4 separate regions of the Homo sapiens genome follow, and all the other regions are linked to region 4. Evidence: fine-mapped expression QTL. A gene starts in region 4. Each other region holds a variant in brackets. All regions are shown on one strand. Distances are between the middles of the regions. Region 1 overlaps DPEP1 (dipeptidase 1). Region 2 overlaps ZNF276 (zinc finger protein 276). Region 3 overlaps DPEP1 (dipeptidase 1). Region 4 holds the start of CHMP1A (charged multivesicular body protein 1A).

What was found. PIP is the estimated chance that this variant, and not a neighbour inherited with it, causes the effect. A credible set is the group of variants that fine-mapping cannot tell apart.
Region 1: its variant is the best candidate, but not a certain one, in a credible set for the expression of CHMP1A in skeletal muscle (GTEx, PIP 0.85).
Region 2: its variant is the best candidate, but not a certain one, in a credible set for the expression of CHMP1A in whole blood (INTERVAL, PIP 0.56).
Region 3: its variant is the best candidate, but not a certain one, in a credible set for the expression of CHMP1A in whole blood (INTERVAL, PIP 0.68).

The regions. Positions count from the first base shown.
Region 1 is chr16:89,630,171-89,635,311 of GRCh38, forward strand. DPEP1 (dipeptidase 1) reads left to right here. Exons shown (of 11, transcript NM_001389466.1): 2 at 135-344. The coding sequence starts at 241. Among named protein-coding and RNA genes, the nearest start is that of DPEP1, 19 kb to the left of the region's middle. RefSeq lists an enhancer at 1,892-2,746. The variant C/T (reference allele first, on the strand shown) is at 2,215.
Region 2 is chr16:89,731,641-89,736,781 of GRCh38, forward strand. ZNF276 (zinc finger protein 276) reads left to right here. Exons shown (of 11, transcript NM_001113525.2): 7 at 1,662-1,772; 8 at 1,842-1,917; 9 at 2,281-2,398. Among named protein-coding and RNA genes, the nearest start is that of ZNF276, 13 kb to the left of the region's middle. The variant G/A (reference allele first, on the strand shown) is at 2,410.
Region 3 is chr16:89,623,384-89,628,524 of GRCh38, forward strand. The region is part of intron 1 of DPEP1 (dipeptidase 1); the gene reads left to right. Among named protein-coding and RNA genes, the nearest start is that of DPEP1, 12 kb to the left of the region's middle. RefSeq lists enhancers at 109-981, 5,031-5,141. The variant C/T (reference allele first, on the strand shown) is at 3,244.
Region 4 is chr16:89,655,182-89,660,310 of GRCh38, forward strand. It overlaps CHMP1A (charged multivesicular body protein 1A), which reads right to left and starts at 2,527. Exons shown (of 7, transcript NM_002768.5): 1 at 2,401-2,527. The coding sequence starts at 2,407. It overlaps SPATA33 (spermatogenesis associated 33), which reads left to right and starts at 2,655. Exons shown (of 3, transcript NM_001271907.2): 1 at 2,655-2,767; 2 at 3,067-3,240. The coding sequence starts at 2,731. RefSeq lists silencers at 2,254-2,313, 2,534-2,923 and an enhancer at 2,639-2,808.

The DNA of each region.
Region 1 (5,141 bases), 25 kb before region 4:
TGAGTGTCCGGCCTTCCATCCTACCCACCCTGGTGGGGAATGTGCTGGTTACTTATTGAACATGGGAAGCTATAAACAGGAGAGCAGCCACCTGTCATCACTTCCACCCACACCTCTGGTGCCTCTCCTGGCAGGCAGAGTGGCTCCTCACAGCCTGAAGCTCATCCTTCTGCACGGGCCAGCCAGGCCAGCACAGAGGCACCAGGGCAGCAGTGCACACAGGTCCCCGGGGACCCCACCATGTGGAGCGGATGGTGGCTGTGGCCCCTTGTGGCCGTCTGCACTGCAGACTTCTTTCGGGACGAGGCAGAGAGGATCATGAGGGACTCCCCTGTCATTGATGGGTGAGTGCTCACCTGAGCCAGGTGCTTAGGGAACCAGGACTGGGAACTGGGGCTGGGAGAGCGGGGCTGGGGGAGCCGGGGCTGGGGGAGCGGGGCTGGGGGAGCCAGGGCTGGGGGTGCCGGGGCTGGGGGTGCCGGGGCTGGGGGAGCCGGGGTTGGGGGTGCCGGGGCTGGGGGTGCCGGGGCTGGGGGAGCCGGGGCTGGGGGTGCCGGGGCTGGGGGTGCCGGGGCTGGGGGAGTTTGGCCTGGGGAGTTGGGGCTGGGGGAGCTGGGGGTGAGACTCGTGTGTGCTTGGCTTGGGGCTCAGTTTCTCTGGGGGTGAGACTCGTGTGCCCTTGGGTTGGGGCTCAGTTTCAGCTTCTGCGACGGTGCCGGGCCCTTGCCCTTTCCTGGCCCCTGCTGCTTTGTGGGGTCTCTCAGGGCCCCCAAAGACTTCAGCGGATGAAGGTCTGCAGGGACTGGGCAGGAAGGAGGCAAGGCCACACTCCCTGGTCCCGAAGCTCAGAGTGAGGTCTGAGCCTGCGGACGTGGAGGCCCTGCGCCCCAATCTCACCCTGTGCCTCAGCTTCTCCCAAAAGCAGCAGGTGCGGGTGGCACCCTACAGGCCCTCTCAGCCGGCATCTTTTTGGCTCTCTTCCCACTCCCCCCGGCCTGCCTTCTCCCGGGGGGAGGCCCATGCCACTTGGGCCCTTGCCTGTGCTGCGCTGTGTGCCCACCCGGCCCCCACCCCCGACCTCGCTGGGGCACCTGGGTCACCTGCTTCTGTCCTGACCTCCTCAGGGCGGAGATCCCCACTGCCCGGGAATCCGACCCTCTTCCCCGCCCCTTCCTGGCCCAGTGCCCCGACACTGGGTCACCATGGAGGCCTCCTGCTTCCAGGCACCAGACTCAGATCAGGGTCCACACTGGCTCCGCGTTGGGGTGGGAGGGTCACTGAGAGTCCGCCCTGTGTCTGGCATGGTGTCTCCACCTGGAAAATGCCTCTGGGCTTTGTTGGGGAAAAACTGTGAAAAAAGCAGGGAAACCCGATGTCTTGTCGCATAAGAACTTCAGGGAACAGTCCAGGCTGGGCAGTTCACGCCTGTAATCCCAGCACTTTGGGAGGCCGAGGCGGGCGGATCACCTGAGGTCAGGAGCTCAAGACCAGCCTGGCCAACATGGCGAAACCCTGTCTCTACTAAAAATACAAAAAATTAGCCAGGCATGGTGGCGCATGCCTGTAGTCCCAGATACTCAGGAGGCTGAGGCAGGAGAATCACTTGAACTCGGGAGGCGGAGGCTAGAGTGACCCAATATCGGGCCACTGTACTTCAGCCTGGGCAACAGAGTGAGACTCCATCTCAAATTAAAAAAACTTAAGAGAGCAGAGGCAGCTGCAGAAAGGGAGCAGAGGGTGGTCCCTGCATCCTCATGGTTTAAAATGGCCATGCCAGCTTCAGCCCTCACATCTGTATGCTGGCCAGCAGGGAGGAGGGAGACATAAAGAAGGGAAAAAGGACAAGCAGCAGGTGACTGTCAGGGTCAGGTTTTTGTTTTGTTTTGTTTTGAGACAGAGTCTCACTCTGTCACCTGTCACCCAGGCTGGAGTGCAGTGGCGTGATCTCAGCTCGCTGCAACCTCTGCCTCCTGGATTTAAGCAATTCTCCTGCCTCAGCCTCCTGAGTAGCTGGGATTACAGGCGCCCGCCACCAAGCCCGGCTAATTTTTTTGGTATTTTTAGTAGAGACAGGGTTTCACCATGTTGGCCAGGCTGGTCTCGAACTCCTGACCTCAGGTGATCCGCCCGCCTCGGCCTCCCACAGTGCTGGGATTCCAGGCGTGAGCCACCGCGCCCGGCCGGGGGTCACAGTTGTTAGAAGCTGTTACGGGA[C/T]CCACCTTCATCCCTTGGCCACCGCCAGCGACACAGGGGCAGGAAGTATCTTCAACCCAAATGGCTGTGTGCCCGCTAAAAACGGGGGGTTTTAAAGTCACAAAGGAAAAGGAGGAGAATGGATCCCGGGGGCAGCCAGCAGTCTCCCCACGAACAGCTGCCTGAGTGTGTGCTTGCCGCTTTTCCAGCACTTTCCAGCACTCCTTGGAGCAGGACGCCGGCTTCCATATCCCAGCTAAGGGCATTGCCCCAGCTGCACAGATAAGGAGGGTGGGTCTGATTAGCAGAACTGCCATTTGCCCTGGCCATGAGGCAGGCAGGGCCTCCCTCCCACTGAGAAACCAGAGGCCCCACCTTCCCATCGTTTTCTCCAGCAAGAGTGGAGAGGGCTGGCGGGGCACAGTGGCTCACAGGTGTGGTCCCAGCACTTTGGGAGACCGAGGTGGGAGGACTGCTTGAACCCAGAAGGTTGGGGGCTGCAGTGAGCTGTGATTGCACCCCTGCCCTCCAGCCTGGGCAACAGAGTGAGACCCTGTCTCAAAAAGAAAAAAGAAAGGAGGGGCTGCAGGAGGAGGAGGGAGGGGAGAGCAGAGAGCTGCCCCATTGCAGCCTGTCCCTCCAAGGGCGGCTCCTGGGGTCCTAGGAATCCCTACCCATCCCAGGCTAATGTCTGAGATGGGCCGCCTGCGTCCTCAGGCCAAGGAGTAAAGTCTCCTGGGAGCCCTGCCCAGCCCCACCCAGGACAGTGCCCAGTGTAGGGTTGCACCTAGCGATGAGGCTGCTGCCCGGGCAGGGTCCCTGGCTGGAGCTCATGGTTCCCTCAGCAAGTGCGTCCTGACCACCCACTCTGCTCCGAGGGCTGGGGAGAGGCCCGTGCCAGCCCAGGCTGTCATGTGGACTCGCTGTGGCCAGGGACAACCTCGCTGACGCAGGAGCTTTGGGAGAGACTCACACCAGCATCAGGCGTGCGCCCGCCCATCTGCCCAGGGGTGGGGCCGGAAAGCGTGCCAGGCTGGGCTTGGGGGCACTAGCCCAGGGGAGGTCAGGAACGACTGGGACCCAGGAAGGGCAGAGCCCTCCCCTTCTTTCCCCTGAGGAGCTCCATGGGTGCATTCGCCTTGGAAAAGCTCATTGCGGGCACATAGATTTGAGCTGGGTCACAGAAAGCAGAGCCCGCAGCTGGAAATGATTAACAGTTACTCATCTGCCTCTCCCAGCTGCCCTCCAAGGAAAGCACCAAGACACCCTCATGTTACAGATGGGGAAACTGAGACACAGAGGGAGCTGTCCTCAAGGAGAGCACCAAAACACCCTCATGTTACAGATGGGGAAACTGAGACACAGAGGGAGCTGTCCTCCAAGGAAGGCACCAAGACACCCTCATGTTACAGATGGGGAAACTGAGGCACAGGGATGGGTCTGGAAACTGCAAGTGGAGGGGCCCCTGTGGCCTCATCCCAGCGCACACCCTCACAAGGCAGTCCCCCCGAGACAGGGGCACAGCCCACATTACAGGAAGGAGACTGAGGCCCCAGACCCAGTGACGGGGAAGGGGAACCCTGGGCATTCCCCAGGGTCGGGGGTCAGGCCTCAGCCCCTTCCCATCCTCCTCACAGCCTGGTTGAAACACAGATGAGATCGTAGCCTAGAGCCTGCCCTGGGCCCCTTAGAGCTGCATTTCTATTTTTCTTTTCTCTTCTCTTCTTCTTTTTTTTTTTTTTTTGGAGGGAGTCTCGCTCTGTCGCCCAGGCTGGAGTGCAGTGGTGCGATCTCGGCTCACTGCAAGCTCTGCCTCCTGGGTTCCTGCCATTGTCCTGCCTCAGCCTCTTGAGTAGCTGGGACTACAGGCACCCGCCACCACTCCCGGCTAATTTTTGTATTTTTAGTAGAGACGGGGTTTCACCATGTTAGCCAGGATGATCTCGATCTCCTGACCTTGTGATCTGCCCACCTCGGCCTCCCAAAGTGCTGGGATTACAGGCATGAGCCACCCTGCCTGGCCTGAGAATTGCATTCCTAACGACAGTGGATTCCCTTTGCTCCTGGTCTCTGCCAGGCCCTGTTGGGCAGCTGGATTCGGACCCTCTGGGATCCTCACTCAGCCACCAGCTCTGACAGCCCCAGCTCCCCCTTCCTCTGCGTTCCCCTTCCTTCTCCTTTCCCCTTCCTTCTCCTTTCCCTTCCTTCTCCTTTCCCCTTCCTTCTCCTTTCCCTTCCTTCTCCTTTCCCCTTCCTTCTCCTTTCCCTTCCTTCCCTTTCCCTTCCTTCCCTTTCCCCTTCCTTCCCTTTCCCCTTCCTTCTCCTTTCCCTTCCTTCCCTTTCCCTTCCTTCCCTTTCCCTTCCTTCTCCTTTCCCCTTCCTTCTCCTTTCCCTTCCTTCTCCTTTCCCTTCCTTCTCCTTTCCCTTCCTTCTCCTTTCCCCTTCCTTCCCTTTCCCCTTCCTTCTCCTTTCCCTTCCTTCTCCTTTCCCTTCCTTCTCCTTTCCCTTCCTTCCCTTTCCCTTCCTTCTCCTTTCCCTTCCTTCCCTTTCCCCTTCCTTCCCTTTCCCTTCCTTCTCCTTTCCCTTCCTTCTCCTTTCCCTTCCTTCTCCTTTCCCTTCCTTCTCCTTTCCCTTCCTTCTCCTTTCCCTTCCTTCTCCTTTCCCCTTCCTTCCCTTTCCCTTCCTTCTCCTTTCCCTTCCTTCTCCTTTCCCTTCCTTCTCCTTTCCCTTCCTTCTCCTTTCCCTTCCTTCTCCTTTCCCTTCCTTCTCCTTTCCCTTCCTTCTCCTTTCCCCTTCCTTCCCTTTCCCTTCCTTCTCCTTTCCCCTTCCTTCTCCTTTCCCCTTCCTTCTCCTTTCCCCTTCCTTCTCATTTTTCCTCACGAGAGCTCCTACCCTCACCACCACCAGCTCCTGGGAAAACCTTGGAGAACTTCAGTCCTTTGGAAGTT
Region 2 (5,141 bases), 76 kb after region 4:
TGCAGCCCTGTGCGCTCAAGTGAGCCTCTCACCTCAGCCTCCCAGGGTGCTGGGACTGCCAACATGAGCCACTGGACTCGGCAGTGTAAACTACTTTTTTCATGCTATTGCATATGTATTGTTCATTGATAATATATAGAAACATAACTGGGTTTTGTGTATGGATTTTGTGCCCTGCAACTTTGCTGAAATAATTAATTAGGGTTTTTTGTATGTGGATCTTTAGGGTTTTCTACGTAGAAGGTCGTGTCATTTGTGAATAGGGAGAATTTGTCTTTGTTTTCTTTTTCTTGCCCAGTTACTCTGGCTAGGGCCTCCAGTGCTGCCCTGAGAGCAGTGGTGAGAGAATCCGTATCTTGTTCCTGACCTTGGAGGAAGAGCTTTCAGTCCTTCACAGTTGAGCGTGGTGTCTGCTGTGGGTTTCATGTAGAGGTTTTATCGTGGTGAAGAAGTTCCTTTCTGTTCTTGAGATATTTCCTTAACTATTCTTACCTGGATCCAGAAAGGAACCACAAGTGCGTCTCTCTCTTTAAGTCTCCGATAGACGCACACTGGAAGCTGCTGCATTTGCTGGTCCCTCAGGGACTTGCCAGACCAACTAAAATGCACGACCCCAGACTTTTGGAGGACAAGGTCTCCTGCCCACCATGGTCCCAGCCAGCAGCTCCAGGAACACAGGCTGGGCTCCCTGCAGTGGAGGCGGGGTTGAGGAATGCTGGGGTGGCAGCTACTCACCGTGTGCTTCCCAGGGAGCATCACCTGTTCCTCTGAAGCCCTGCCTGGGTGGCTTGAGCTTGGAATCAAGCTGACCCATTTTGAGAGAGTGGATTCTGAGCTTTTTCCTAGCGTAAGGTCGTTTTGATAAAGGAGTGGTCCTTTGGACATCCCTGTTCTGCCGTCCTGATACCTCTAGTTGTGGGTTTTATGTGTAGCACAGGGTGAAGCTTTAGTTCTCAGAACCCACCCCTGCTGTACCCTGTGCCCTCGCCCTCCGCTGTGTTTGCCCTGACCCTCCTGTACCCTGCGTCCTCGCCCTCTGCTGTGCTCACCCGACCCTGCTGTACCCTGCGCCCTCGTCCTCTGCCGTTTGCCCCTGACCCTGCTGTACCATGCCCTCGCCCTCTGCTGTGTTCACCCTGACCCTGCTGTACCCTGCGCCCTCACCCTCTGCTGTGTTCACCTGACCCTGCTGTGTCCTGCGCCCTTGCCCTCTGCTGTGCTCGCCCTGACCCTGCTGTACCCCGCTGTACCCTGCGCCCTCGCCCTCTGCTGTGTTCACCCCGACCCTGCTGTACCCTGCGCCCTCATCCTCTGCTGTGCCCTCCCCCTCTGCTGTGTTCGCCCTGACCCTGCTGTACCCTGCGCCCTCGCCCTCTGCTGTGTTTGCCCTGACCCTGCTGTACCCTGCGCCCTCGCCCTCTGCTGTGTTCACCCCTGACCCTGCTGTGTCCTGCGCCCTTGCCCTCTGCTGTGCTCGCCCCTGAGGCCTCCTGTCCAGAGTTGCTCTGGCTTTGGTGGCTTCAGGTAGATTCTGAGGGTCAGTCAGCACAGAAGCAACTCAGGGAAGCTTCAGAAAAGACCATTTCTCAGGTTGGAGAGACAAAAAACATTTTGCAAATGGAGATCAGAAACCATTGAATTTGGGAACCTCTTTTTTTCAGAGTCTCTGGTAAGAAGAGTGAAAGCAAAGAAGCCAAGAAGTCTGAAGAACCAAGAATTCGGAAGAAGCCGGGACCCAAGCCCGGATGGAAGAAGAAGCTTCGTTGTGAGAGGTGATGCCTGCAACGCGAGGCTCGCCCTGCCTGTCGGGGCCGGGGCTCCATGCATGCTCTTCATTGCAGGGAGGAGCTTCCCACCATCTACAAGTGTCCTTACCAGGGCTGCACGGCCGTGTACCGAGGCGCTGACGGCATGAAGGTGAGCACTGGCTGTGCCTGACCCAGGCCCGGCAGCTGTCAGTGTGAACCTGGGGGAGGTAGCAGGTGTTTCTGCAGCCTAACTCAGACTTGCGCCCAAGGACACTTTGACCTAGGTTAACCGAGACCTGAAGCAGTCCTAGCCAGTGCCATCCTTGGGGGTAGATGTGAGGCCAGACTTTCACTTGAGACACCCCCCGGGGGGTCTAGAAGTTTCTTGGAGTGAAGCTGTGAAGGAGCCAGTGGTGTCGCTGGAGGAGGAGTTGGATCTGCCTTCCAGGGGCCTCAGCTGTCACCTACTGAGGGCTCGTGCCATGTGGCCCGGGTGCGGCTCTGAGGGTCTCTCACCGAGTCTCTCCTTCAGAAGCACATCAAGGAGCACCACGAGGAGGTCCGGGAGCGGCCCTGCCCCCACCCTGGCTGCAACAAGGTTTTCATGATCGACCGCTACCTGCAGCGCCACGTGAAGCTCATCCACACAGGTACGCCTATC[G/A]CCAGTGTCGCCCACGCGGGTGACAGCCAGGGGCACGTGACCTGCTTTCCAGTCTTCCTCATACCCATCCCCGCCCCAAGAGTTGGGGGTGCGTGAAGGTGGCTCATGGGGTCTTTGGTACTCAGTCACGTTGGTAGATGAAGGCTAGAGTAGGGCGTCAGTGTGAATCTGCCCTTCCCTGTGATGGAAGGAATTCCTGACTTCCCCAGGATCTAGGCAGTTTGTCAAAACTAATAGCCAAGCAATCTTGGTGTCCTTTTGCAAATTGGTCATTTTATTTTTTAATTTTTTTTTGAGACGGAGTCCTGCTCTGTTGCCCAGGCTGGAGTGCAGTGGCACCATCTTGGCTCACCACAACCTCTGCCTCCCAGGTTCAATCAATTCTCCCGCCTCAGCCTCCCAAGTAGCTGGGATTACAGGCACCCGCAACCATGCCTGGCTAATTTTTGTAATTTTTGGTAGAGACGGGGTTTCACCATGTTGGCCAGGGTGATCTCTAACTCCTGACCTCAAGTGATCTCAGCCTTCCAAAGTGCAGAGATTACAGGTGTGAGCACTGCACCTGGCCCAAACAAGTGTATCTTAAAAGGCAAGGCAGAAGGCATGAAGGCACACCAGCTCTGGGGAGCTGCCCACGTGGACAGGCGGGAGGCACGTGTGGTTCTGCCTTTTCACATGTGTGTAGGTCGTGTCATTAAGACCGGAGGCGGATGGGGGAATTATGACTGAGGGTGCTGTCTCTGTGCCCGTCTTATTTTTCACAATTTCTATAATGCACAAGTTACTTTTATAATCCAACAAGGATATGTTTTCAAAATGACAAACTTGGCCGGGCGTGGTGGCTCACACCTGTAATCCCAGCACTTTGGGAGGCTGAGGTGGGTGGATCACCTGAGGTCAGCAGTTCAAGACCAGCCTGGCCAACATGGTAAAACCTGGTCTCTACTAAAAATACAAAAATTATCTGGGTGTGGTGGCACACGCCTGTAGGCACAGCTACTTGGGAGGCGGAGGTGGAGGTTGCAGTGAGCCGAGATCACACCACTGCACTCCAGCCTGGGCAACAGTGAGACACTGTCTCAAAAAAAAAACTTGTTTGAACCACGTGGACCCACATATCCATGGTCAGGGACTCGAATCCCTGGTATTCAGAGGGCTGCCTTTTCCTAAGTGCAGGTTCTGTAGGGTCTTTGCAGGGCTAACTTCGGGACTTCAGTATGAGCAGATTTTGGTAAGGGGTGGGGGGGGGCCTGGAACCAGCTGAGGACAACTGTATATTGATCCTTACACACACAGTTTTCCTTGGTTTTGAACTTATTACAGAATAAGAATTATTTATTCTTACTTGAATTTACTGAAGTATTTTTTCATTAGGATTGCTTTTCACTGCTGGGTCATCTCCCGACATGCGGGTTGTTATTTTTTGGGTTCTCCGACATCTCTCCTGATGGCAGCACTTCCTTGGGTTTGGTCCTTCAGACTCTGCATCTGTCCGGTCACTGATGGTCACAACCAGCAGTTCCTTAAAAACCTGAAATTGGGCCGGGTGCAGTGGCTCATGCCTGTAATCGCAGCACTTTGGAGGCTAAGGCAGTAGGATTGCTTGAGGCCAGGATTTTGACACCAGCCTGGGCAACATAGTGAGGCCGTCTTTACCAAAAACTTTTTTTTTAATTTATTGATGGAAACAGTCTCACTCTTATCACCATGGCTGGAGTGCAGTGGCGCGATCTTGGCTCACTGTAACCTCCACCTCCCTAGTTCAAGCAATTCTCCTGTCTCAGCCTCCTGAGTAGCTGGGATTACAGGCATCTGCCACCACGCCGGGGGTGTTTTTTTTTGTTTGTTTGTTTGTTTTTTTGACTGAGTCTTGCTCTTGTCGCCCAGGCTGGGGTGCAGTGGCACAATCTCAGCTCACTGCAAGCTCCTCTTCCTGGGGTAAAGCCATTCTCCTGCCTCAGCCTCCCAAATAGCTGGGACTACAGGTGCTGGCCACCACACCCAACTAATTTTTCGTATTTTCAGTACAGACGGGGTTTCACCACGTTAGTGAGGCTGGTCTCAATCTCCTGACCTTGTGATCCACCTGCCTCGGCCTCCCGAAGTGCTGGGATTATAAGCGTGAGCCATGACGCCTGGGTAATTTTTCTATTTTTAGTAGAGAGGCAGGTTTTGCTATGTTGGCCAGGCTGGTCTCGAGTTCCTGACCTCAGGTGATTTGCCTGCCTTGGCCTCCCAAAGTGCTGGGATTACAGGCATGAGCCACCGTGCCCAGCCCCCAATTTTTTTTTTTTTTTCCGGGACAGTCTGTGTCGCCCAGCCTGGAGTGCAGCTGTGCAATCTCAGCTCACTGCAACCTCCACCTCCTGGGTTCATGCAATTCTGCTGCCTCAGCCTCCCGAGTAGCTGGGACTACAGGTGTGTGCCACCACACCTGGCTAATTTTTGTATTTTTAGTAGAGACAGGGTTTTACCATATTGATTGGGCTGGGGCTGGTCTTGAACTGACTTCATGATCCGCCTGCCTTGGCCTTCCAAAGTGCTGGGATTGAGCACTTTGTGTAAGCCACTGCACCGGCCCCCCAAATTTTTTAAATTACCTGGGTGTGGTGGTGCACACCTGTGGTCCCAGCTACTTGAGAGGTTGAGGCAGGAGGATCACTTAAGCCTGGGAGTTCCAGGCTATAGTGAGCCATGATTGTACCATTGCACTTCAACCTGGGCAACAGAGC
Region 3 (5,141 bases), 32 kb before region 4:
CCCGCTCACACATACGGCACGGCCCACCTTGCTGTTGCTTTATTTTTAAATATGAAATTTGTAGTGACAAAGATTGCCCGCTGCCAAGGGAAGTCTGCAAACCCAACAGAAGGTCCAGATGAACAATGGGAGACGCGTCTGCATTCCGTTTGGTAAACCTCAGAAGAGAACAGAGTGTAGCTGAGTCCAAGCAGATCTGCTTCCCTGACGGGAGCGGGGCGGAAAAGAACACAGCAAACCTTGGAAACCGCCCTCCGGAGACCAGACGCACAACCCCCAAGAAAACACGAAAGAACCGTGCTGGGAGACAAAACAGAGGAAATGGAGTGCACAGGATAAGCAGGAAGAAAGCCAGGACAGGAGGCAGAAAGGAAGCTCAGACAGTGCAACCCCTGCCTGAAACCCTGGCCAGACGGAGCTCAGAAAGGAGGGGAAGAAGAGGGATACGGGCGACTGGAAATTCCCTGGACCGGAGGCAGAGGAAACGCTCCAGGGAGTGAAAAAGCCTCACACTAAAGCACGTGGCTGAGAAGTCGTGGCGCTCCGAGGAAAGAGGCAGCTCCAGGCCTGGAGGGAACAGCGGTTGCCCACACACAGCCGGGCCCATCCACCACACATGCACAGACGGACTGTGGTGCGGTCACCTCCTGAGGGACAAAGGTTTCCCGCCCAAAGTGCACATCCAGAGAAACTACTGATGAGGGCAGAATAAAGACAGACAGGAGGACTGGGGAGTGAATTCCTGCCGACCCGCTGCTAGGGAATGGTTGCAGGGCCAACTCTAATGGAATAGGGTTTAGTCTGCTTTGCATTGCTCCAAAGAAATCCCCGAGGCTGGGTCATCTATAGAGAAAAGGGGTGGGTTTGGCTCATGGTTGTGGAGGCTGAATGGGAAGCGTGGCACCAGCGTCTGCCTTTGGTGAGGACCCCAGGGAACCTCTCATCACGGCAGAAGGGGAGGGAGCAGGTGTCACTGGAAGGATGGCCTGGACCGTAATAGTCCATGTCCTCGGCGTTTGAACAAAGAAGTGGACAAAACGTGCAAAGTAACGAACAAAACACGGAAAGAAAGCAGCGAAAGCAGGGATTTATTAAAGCGAGAAAGGTCGGGAGTGGGGTGAGAGGGGCGCTGTTACATAGTTTTCTGGGGTTTGTTTTTTTTTTGTTTTGAGAGGGAGTCTCACACCGTCGCCCGGGCTGGAGTGCAGTGGCGCCATCTCGGCTCACTGCAACCTCTGCCTCCCAGGTTCAAGCGATTCTCCAGCCTCAGCCTCCGGAGTAGCTGGGATGACAGGCGCCCGCAACCACGCCCGGCTAATTTTTGTGTTTTTAGTTGAGACGGGGTTTTTCTTTGTTGGCCAGGCTGGTCTTGAACTCCCGGCCTCAGGTGATACACCCGCCGCACTCTCCCAAAGTGCTGGGATGACAGGTGTGAGCCACCCCCTCGGCCAGTTTTCTGGGTCTTAAGGGCACCTTTCATGGTTCCTATACCTCTTATCTGGATGAAAGATTTGGTCCGTGGCTAATCAAAGGCTGAGGTAAACTGGTGTCTGCAGATGAAAGGGTGGCCCGCAGCCAGTCCACAGCACTTTCCTTTCCATCTGGGACATGGTGGTGGGGGCTGTACGAGAGCAGCCTTTGATCCTTTGCTACTGGGCGTGGGGCTCTTCCTCAGGGTGTAGTTTTTGGAAGTTGGTGTTAATTGGCCCTGGGTTCCCTGCCCCAGACCTTGAAGTTTTTCCTGGATTCAGCGTGCTTTGGCCTCGGACTCTCTCCCCCTGACCTTGGTGTTTTCTCTTTTAGGAAGTCAGCACAAATTAGCGTCCCATTCCCTGCCCCAGGCCTCGCTGTTTTTCCTTGATTCAGCACGAATTGGCCTAAGTTCCCTGCCCCCAGACCCTATTCTCCTGCTCCCAGGGCATCACGTGCAGAGAGGGAGGCAGAGAGTGAGGGGGGAGGTACCAGGCTCGTTTTAACCGTCAGTTCTCTTCCCAACGAACTCATTACCTCCAGAACTGCACCAAGCCATTGATGAGGGGCCCGTCCCCATGACACAAAACCTCCCAACTGGGATCCAGTTTCCACGTGAGATCTGGACAAACATTCAAACTCTATCAGGACTATAAACCAAACAAAGGTGGAAGACCTTCAGTGCAGGCATTAAGTGAGCACTGACATTCCAGGCTGGGAGTAGCAGGTTGGACGAGGGGAGGCTCTGGGGGCAGGGAGGGAGGTTGCAGAGTCCAGAGCTTGGAAGATGGAAGATAAGGGCACCCAGTGTAGGGCAGGAGAAGAAAGGCAACTGGAAACTCTGGGACAAACTATAAAACCCCACGGAAAAGACAGGTGTAAGGTGACTACCTTGATCCGAGGGTGATCTGAGTGGCTGGTACCTTTGTGCTCACAGCAGGACTGTCGTAAAGTAGGTACATCCATGACTTCTACTTGACAGACGAAGAGACTGAGGCCGAGAAATTGAACCAGCTCACCCACGCTGCCCTTGAACAGTGGTCGTGAGAGGGGAACCCACAGCCTACCAGGACACGGGGCCCTGCCCAACCCCCAGGACGCCCTCGTGTTGAATTAAGTCCGTGGCTTTGAGCCTCAGAAACGGTGCAAAATGCAGTCCACGCGTGGCTTTCGGCCCCGGTCTGGTGCTCGGAAGACATGTGCCTCCCTCTACCTGCCCCCCGTCCTCCCGCCACTGTGAGGCCCTGAGAGGCCCTGAGATTCTTGCGATGTGTGAATAAGGGTGCCGCATTTTCATGTTGCACTGGGCACTGAATGGTGGAGCTGAGTGATGCGGTTTGGTTCTGTGTCCCCACCCAAATCTCATCTCAGATTATAATCCCCACCTGTCAAGGGAGAGACCCGCTGGAGGTGAGTGCATCGTGGGGCCATTCACCCCATGTTCTCGTGGTAGCGAGAAAGTTCTCACAAGATCTGTTTGTTGTTGTTTTTGTTGGTGGTGGTGGTTTTTAAGACGGAGTTTCACTCTTGTTGCCCAAGCTGGCTGGAGTGCAGTGGCACAATCTTGGCTCCCCGCAACCTCCACCTCCCGGGTTCAAGCAATTCTCCTGCCTCAGCCTCCCGAGTAGCTGGGATTACAGGTATGAGCCACCGCGCCTGGCTAATTTTGTATTATTAGTAGAGATGGGGTTTCTCCATGTTGGTCAGGCTGGTCTCGAACTCCGGACCTCAGGTGATCCACCCGCCTCGGCCTCCCAAAGTGCTTGGATCACG[C/T]GGTGGCGTGCGCCACCGCACCCAGCCTAAGATCTGGTTTTTAAAAGTGTTTGGCAGTCCCCCCCTCAAACTCTCTCCCCCGCTGCCATTTAAGACATGCCTTGCCTCCCTTTGCCTTCGGCCATGATTGTAATTTTCCTGAGGCCTCCCCAGCCATGTGGAACTGTGAGTCAATGAAGGCTTTTTTCCTTTAAAAATTACCCAGTCTTGGCCAGGCGCGGTGGCTCATGCCTGTAATCCCAACAGCTTGGGAGGCCGAGGCGGGTGGATCACTTGGGGTCAGGAGTTTGAGACCACCCTGGCCAACATGGTGAAACTGTCTGTAGTAAAAATAAAAAATTAGTCAGACGTGGGGCCAGGTATGGTGGCTCACACCTGTAATCCCAACACTTTGGGAGGCCGAGGCGGGCGGATCACGAGGTCAGGAGATCGAGACCATCCTGGCTAAAACGGTGAAAACTTGTCTCTACTAAAAAAAAAGAAAAAAAAGAAAAAAATTAGCCGGGCGTGGTGGCGGGCGCCTGTAGTCCCAGCTTCTCTGGAGACTGAGGCAGGAGAATGGCATGAACCCGGGAGGCAGAGCTTGCAGTGAGCTGAGGTTGCGCCACTGCACTCCAGCCTGGGCAATAGAGTGAGACTCCGTCTCAAAAAAAAAAAAAAAAAGTCAGATGTGGGATCAGGCATGGTGGCTCACACCTGTAATCCCAGCACTGTGGGAGGCCGAGGAGGGCACATTATTTTAGGTCAGGAGTTCAAGACCAGCCTGACCAACATGATGAAACCCTGTCTCTACTAAAAATACAAAAAAAATTAGCTGGGTGTGGTGTGCGCCTGTAATCCCAGCTACTCCGGAGGCCGAGGCATGAGAATCAGTTGAGGCAGAGGTTGCCGTGAGCCGAGATTGTGCCACCGCACTCCAGCCTGGGTGACCTACTGAGACTCTGTCTCAGAGAGAGAGAGAGGAAGGAGGGGAGGGGAGAAGAGGGAAAGGAAGGGCAGGGGAACCCAGTCTTGGATATTTCTTCTTTTTTTTTTTTTTTTTTTTTTTTTTTGAAACGGAGTCTTGCTCTGCCACCCAGGCTGGAGTACAGTGTTGCAATCTCGGCTCACTGCAACCTCCGCCTCCCTGGTTCAAGTGATTCTCCTCCAAAAGCCTCCAAGTAGCTGGGATTACGGGCAAGGGCCACCATGCCCAGTAAATTTTTGTATTTTTAGTAGAGAAGGGGTTTCACCATGTTGGTCAGGCTGGTCTCAAACTCCTAACCTCGTGATCCTCCTGCCTTGGCCTCCCAAAGGGTATTTTTGTTTGTTTTTGAGACGGAGTCTCGCTCTTTCGCCCAGGCGGGAGTGCAGTGGTGCAATCTCGGCTCACTGCAAGCTCTGCCTCCCGGGTTCATGCCATTCTCCTGCCTCAGCCTCCCAAGTAGCTGGGACTCCAGGCACCCGCCACCATGCCCGGCTAATTTTTTTTATTTTTGGTAGAGACGGGGTTTCACCATGTTAGCCAGGATGGTCTCGATCTCCTGACCTGGTGATCCACCCGCCTCGGCCTCCCACAGTGCTGGGATTACAGGCGTGAGCCACCACACCCGGCCACAAAAGGTATTTCTTTCTTTCTTTCTTTTCTTTCTTTTTTTTTTTTTTTTGTGAGATAGAGATTTACTCTTGTCGCCCAGGCTGGAGTGCAATGGCGCGATCACAGCTCATGGCATCCTCCACCTCCCGGATTCAAGCGATTCTCCTGCCTCAGCCTCCCGAGTAGCTGGGATTACAGGCATGCACCACCATGCCTGGCTAATTTTTGTATTTTTAGTAGAGACGGGGTTTCACCATGTTGCCCAGGCTGATCTCGAACTCCTGACCTCAGGTGATCCGCCCGCCTCAGCCTCCCACAGTGC
Region 4 (5,129 bases):
GCCTGTCAGTGCAGGCGTGGTCAAGGCCAAGTTCAACCTGTCATCTATCAGTTCAGGTGTGGTCACGGCCAAGGTTATCTGTGACTGGAAAACAGCCAGCCTGACCCAGATGGCACAGTGCAGGCCAGGCGGGCCGTCCCACCCAACTCACTGTGGGATGCTGGCCAAACCGCCCTCCTCATCTCAGCTTTCCCTCACCTCAGCTTTCCCTCACCTCAGCTTTCCCTCACCTCAGCTTTCCCTCACCTCAGCTCTCCTCACCTCAGCTTTCCTCACCTCAGCTTTCCCTCACCTCAGCTTTCCTCACCTCAGCTTTCTCTTCCAGCCGTGTGTGGCAGCACAAAAACCCAGCTAAGGCAAAATCTGACTCTGAGGAAATCTGACATGGGCTTGAGAGAAGTCCCCTCAAAAGAGTTGAGTGAGCTGTGGAGTGAAAAGCCACAATTTTTCTTTTTTTTTTTTGAGACGGAGTCTCACTCTATCACCCAGGCTAGAGTGCAACGGCACCATCTTGGCTCACTGCAACCTCTGCCTCCCAGGTTTAAGCGATTCTCCTGTCTCAGCCTCCCAAGTAGTTAGAATTACACGTGCACGCCACCAGGCCCAGCTAATTTTTGTATTTTTAGAAGAGACGGGGTTTCACCATGTTGGCCAGGCTGGTCTCAAACTCCTGACCTCAGGTGATCAACCAACCTCGGCCTCCCAAAGTGTTGGGGTTACAGGCGTGAGCCACCACATCCGGCCTCCCAAAGTGCTGGAATTACAGCCGTGAGCCACCGCGCCCGGCCTCCCAGAGTGCTGGGGTTACAGGCCTGAGCCACCACACCCGGCCTGGCCAGCATATTTTTTGTGGCGGGAGGTAGATGTTATCTTTCATCTTCTCTCAGGGCAGAAAATCTCTACACATTTCCTTCATGATGATGACACGGTGGTACTATAGCTTTTCACACTTCTAACTAAAAGAATTTTTTTTGAGACGGAGTCTCGCTCTGTCGCCCAGGCTGGAGTGAAGTGGCGCGATCTCGGCTCACTGCAAGCTCCGCCTCCCGGGTTCACGCCATTCTCCTGCCTCAGCCTCCCGAGTAGCTGGGACTACAGGCACCCGCCACCACGCCTGGCTAATATTTTTGTATTTCTAGTAGAGATGGGGTTTCACTGTGTTAGCCAGGATGGTCTCGATCTCCTGACCTTGCGATCCGCCGGCCTCGGCCTCCCAAAGTGCTGGGATTACAGGCGTGAGCCACCGCGCCCAGCCCTTCAAAAAGTATTTTTAAAAGCCTGCCCATCACACCAGCCCAACGATGTTTCAGCAAACATAGGACTTCATTTTGCCAGATTCTTCCTGTTCTTTGGTATCCCTGAGCACACAGCCGGCTAGCCCCAGATGTAGAAGGTAAGAATTAGGGCGACCCATTGAGCACAGAAACGCTTGTGCTGGCTCCTGCTCAAACCTCTGCTTCCCCACATGGAGAATGGACGCAAAGAGCTGCTGTGACCAGGGCCTGGCACTCAGGGAGCGCTTTCTGTCTGAGTCCTTCTGATTTGCAGTGATGCTGTTTGGGGCAGGGGGTGCAACTGTCACTTTTTCTGGTGCCCTCTGACCCGACATTCCAAGTCCCGAAAGGCCGAACAGGCATCGCACAGTCCCCCCTACCGAGCTGGCGGGAAAGGGCGCCTGACGCTGAGGAGTGCCAGGGGCGGGGGAAAGGGTCCTGGGTCGGTGGTCGGGGGTCCAGGCCCTGGGCAAGGGGTCCTGGGTCGGGAGTCTAGGTCCCGGGTCCATGGTTGGGGGTCAGAGGTCGAGGCCCCGGGGAAGGCATACCGGGTTGAGATTTGGGGATGGAGGCCCCGGGGAAGGGGTCCCGAATCGGGGGTCGGGGATCGAGGCCTGGGGGGAGGGGTCCCGGGTCGAGGGTCGAGGCCCGGGGTAAAGGATCTCGGGTTGGGGGTCGGGGGCCTGGGAAGGGTCCCGGTCGGTGGTCGGGGGTCGAGGCCCGGGAGAAGGGGTCCCGGGTCGGTGGTAGAGGCCCTGGGGAAGGGGTTCCGGGTCGGGGATCGAGGGTCGAGGCCCGGGAAAAGGGGTCCCGGGTTGGTGGTCTAGGCCCTGGGGAAGGGGTTCCGGGTCGGGTATCGGGGGACGAGGCTCGGGAAAAGGGGTCCCAGGTCGGTGGTCGAGGCCCTGGGGATGGGGTCCGGGTCGGGGATCGGGGGACGACGACCGGGAAAAGGGGTCCCAGGTCGGTGGTCGAGGCCCTGGGGATGGGGTCCCGGGGGATCGACGGTCGAGGCCCGAGCTCTCCTGAGTCCTGCCCGCGGCCCCAGGTGGGCGGAGCCCACGCCAGTGGGAGAAGCGGCCCCGCCCCGCGCGCGAGTCCCCGGAGGACGGCCGCGACCTCTTACCGTCCATGGCCACAATGACAGGAGCAGCACTCGGAGAGGGAGAAGGGACGCCAACTCCGGGCGGTGTCAGGTCCCGGCGGCGATCGAACCGACCAAGCTGCACCCGGCGGGGACTTCCGGGGTCGCCGCCCCACTTCCGGTCGCACGGGATGCTCTCGCGAGAGGATGGTGGCCGGTCCCGCCAGAGGGGCGGGGCGCGGCTGCGCGGCGCGCGGTCGCCATGGTGACGCACGCCGCTGGCGCGAGGACCTTTTGTGAGTCGCTCCCGGCTCCGCGGCCGCGGAGGTGTGGGGACCCGGGCTTGCGTCGGAGGGGGCGGTGGGCTCACCCATGGGCCTTTCCAAAAGCAAAGAGAAACCCAGGAAAGGTAAAGGAGGCGCAGGCGCTGGGCTCCCCGCGTCTCCGCCCCTGGGCGCGGGCCCAGGGCGGGGCTGGGCTGGGCGGGGCGGTGTGAGCGCAGGCGCCAGGCTCGGCCCGGTGCGAACCGTTCCTGCCGCCGAGTCCGCCACGGACGGCGCGTTTCCCGCCTGAGGCGGTTACGGAAACGCGGAGACTCGAGACTTGAAGCCAGCTTATTCTGGACCCACGCAGGCGACTGAAGACGATGGGACCCACTGCCCTGCATTCGGTAAGTCCCGGGTCTAACGGATGATCCATATATTTCAGGTGAGGAGCAAAAGAAGGGATCCACCTATTCAGTTCCAAAATCTAAGGAGAAGTTGATGGAGAAGCATTCCCAGGAAGCCAGGCAGGCAGACAGGGAGTCGGAGAAGCCTGTGGACAGCCTCCACCCGGGGGCCGGGACAGCCAAGCACCCGCCGCCGGCAGCTTCGCTGGAAGGTAGGAGACGGCGGGAGGGAGCGAAGCGAGGTCAGTGGCTTGGAGGATCTGGGGCTGGGGTGAGGAGCCTACTGTAAGACCCTACCGGATGGACACTAGTAGCAGGCACGCGCCGTAAAGATGAAACTGGTTTGTTTTGGGAACTTTATGTAGGAGGTAAATATCCAGAAATCTTAGTTGAAAACATAAGTTTAATGAAAATGTAGGTCAGTTCCCGAGTGATAAGTGCGTACCAGGTGGTCGAGGGGCTGGGGCAGTGTGCGTGTGTCTCACCTGAGGTTCTCCTCGAGGGCTGGGTATCTTGGTGCCACTGAGAATCCCTGAGCCTCCGCACACTGGAACAGAGCATTGGGAGGCCGTCCCAGGCTGGACTGTAGCTCTCCGAGGGCTGTGGGGATAAGTACATTGCGGAGGGTGACCGAGGAGTAGAACCTGGGTGCGACAAAGGTGTCTTTTATAACAGCCTAGTGTGGCCAGACCTTTGGGTGTGTGTGGGGAAGATGAGGCCCCAAAAGTAGGAAGAAGCTAGAATACAAAGTTTTCCATCAGTTTTACCACGTGGAGCTGGAAGCGTTAAATATTTTAAACAACGGAGGTGCTGCCTGGGGCGGTAGTTCACACCTGTCCTCCCAGTTATTTGGCCGAGGCAGGAGGATCTTTTGAGCCCAGGAGTTCAAGACCAGCTTGGGCAACATAGTGAGACCCTGTCTCTACAAAAAATAAATATTTAAAAATAAAAAACAAGGGCGGCATGATGAGGTCTGTGCCTACCAACAGGGGAAGCCAGTTCGCAGGGGAGGTGGCCCGGTCAGAGACCCATTGCTGTGGCCCAGTGGGAGCCAGCAAGGCCTTGCAGTAGGAATTGCAGAAGGGTCAGGCAGGGAGAACCCGCAGAGCCTGCCGTCCGAGGAGATTGGGGGCCTGTGCCAGGAGGAGGTGTTTTAAGTTTCATCACAAGAATGAACCACTCGGCTGGGCGCAGTGGCTCACGCCTGTAATCCCAGCACTTTGGGAGGCCGAGGCGTGTGGATCACTTAAGGTCAGGAGTTCAAGACCAGCCTGGCCAACGTGGTGAAACCCTGTCTCTACTAAAAATACAAAAATTAGCTGGGCGTGGTGGCATGTGCCTGTAATCCCAGCTACTCAGGAGGCTGAGGCAGGAGAATTGCTCGAACCTTGAACCGGGACCCGGGAGGCAGAAGTAGTGGTGAGCGAGATCGCACCACTGCACTCCAGCCTGGGCTACAGAGTGAGACTCTGTCTCAGAAAAAAAAAAAAATAATAAGGAGAGAACCACTCGGGTCAGACAAGAAAGAATGTCAGGGGGATGACTGGCCTGCTAGGCAGAGGAGCTGGGCCTGGACTGCTTCACACTGACACGCTTGTAGGATCAAGGGCTGAAAGTAGGAGGCTCTGGGCCTTGGACTTGGAAGAAAGACTTGGATTTGAATTCCCAACTTTGGAACCTCCCACTGGAGGGTGGAACCCCTCACAGGAGGGCGCAACCCCCCACCGGAGGATGGAACCCTGCAGGAATAGCATCACCCTTGGGTGGCAGTTTGGAAAATGCTACCTGTCTGTCACGGTGCTTTTAGCTGAAAGTTACAGAAAAGCTCACTAAACGCAGCTTTAACACAGGGATTTAATGTCTCACGAATGAAGGGTCAGAGGTGGAGCTTCCAGGTTGGCTTGTTAGCACAACAGTGACATCAAAGACTTTGCGTGTCTCTTCTTGACCACTCTCAGTGTCCACAGCCCCCGATGAGTGTACAGCCCCCCACACGCAGGCAGGACTGCATCTACTGCAAAGGCATTGCTCCTTGCTTCATATTAGCAAGGAAACCTTTCCCAGGAAGGCTTCGCCTGCCCAGCCTCTGCAGGACTCATTC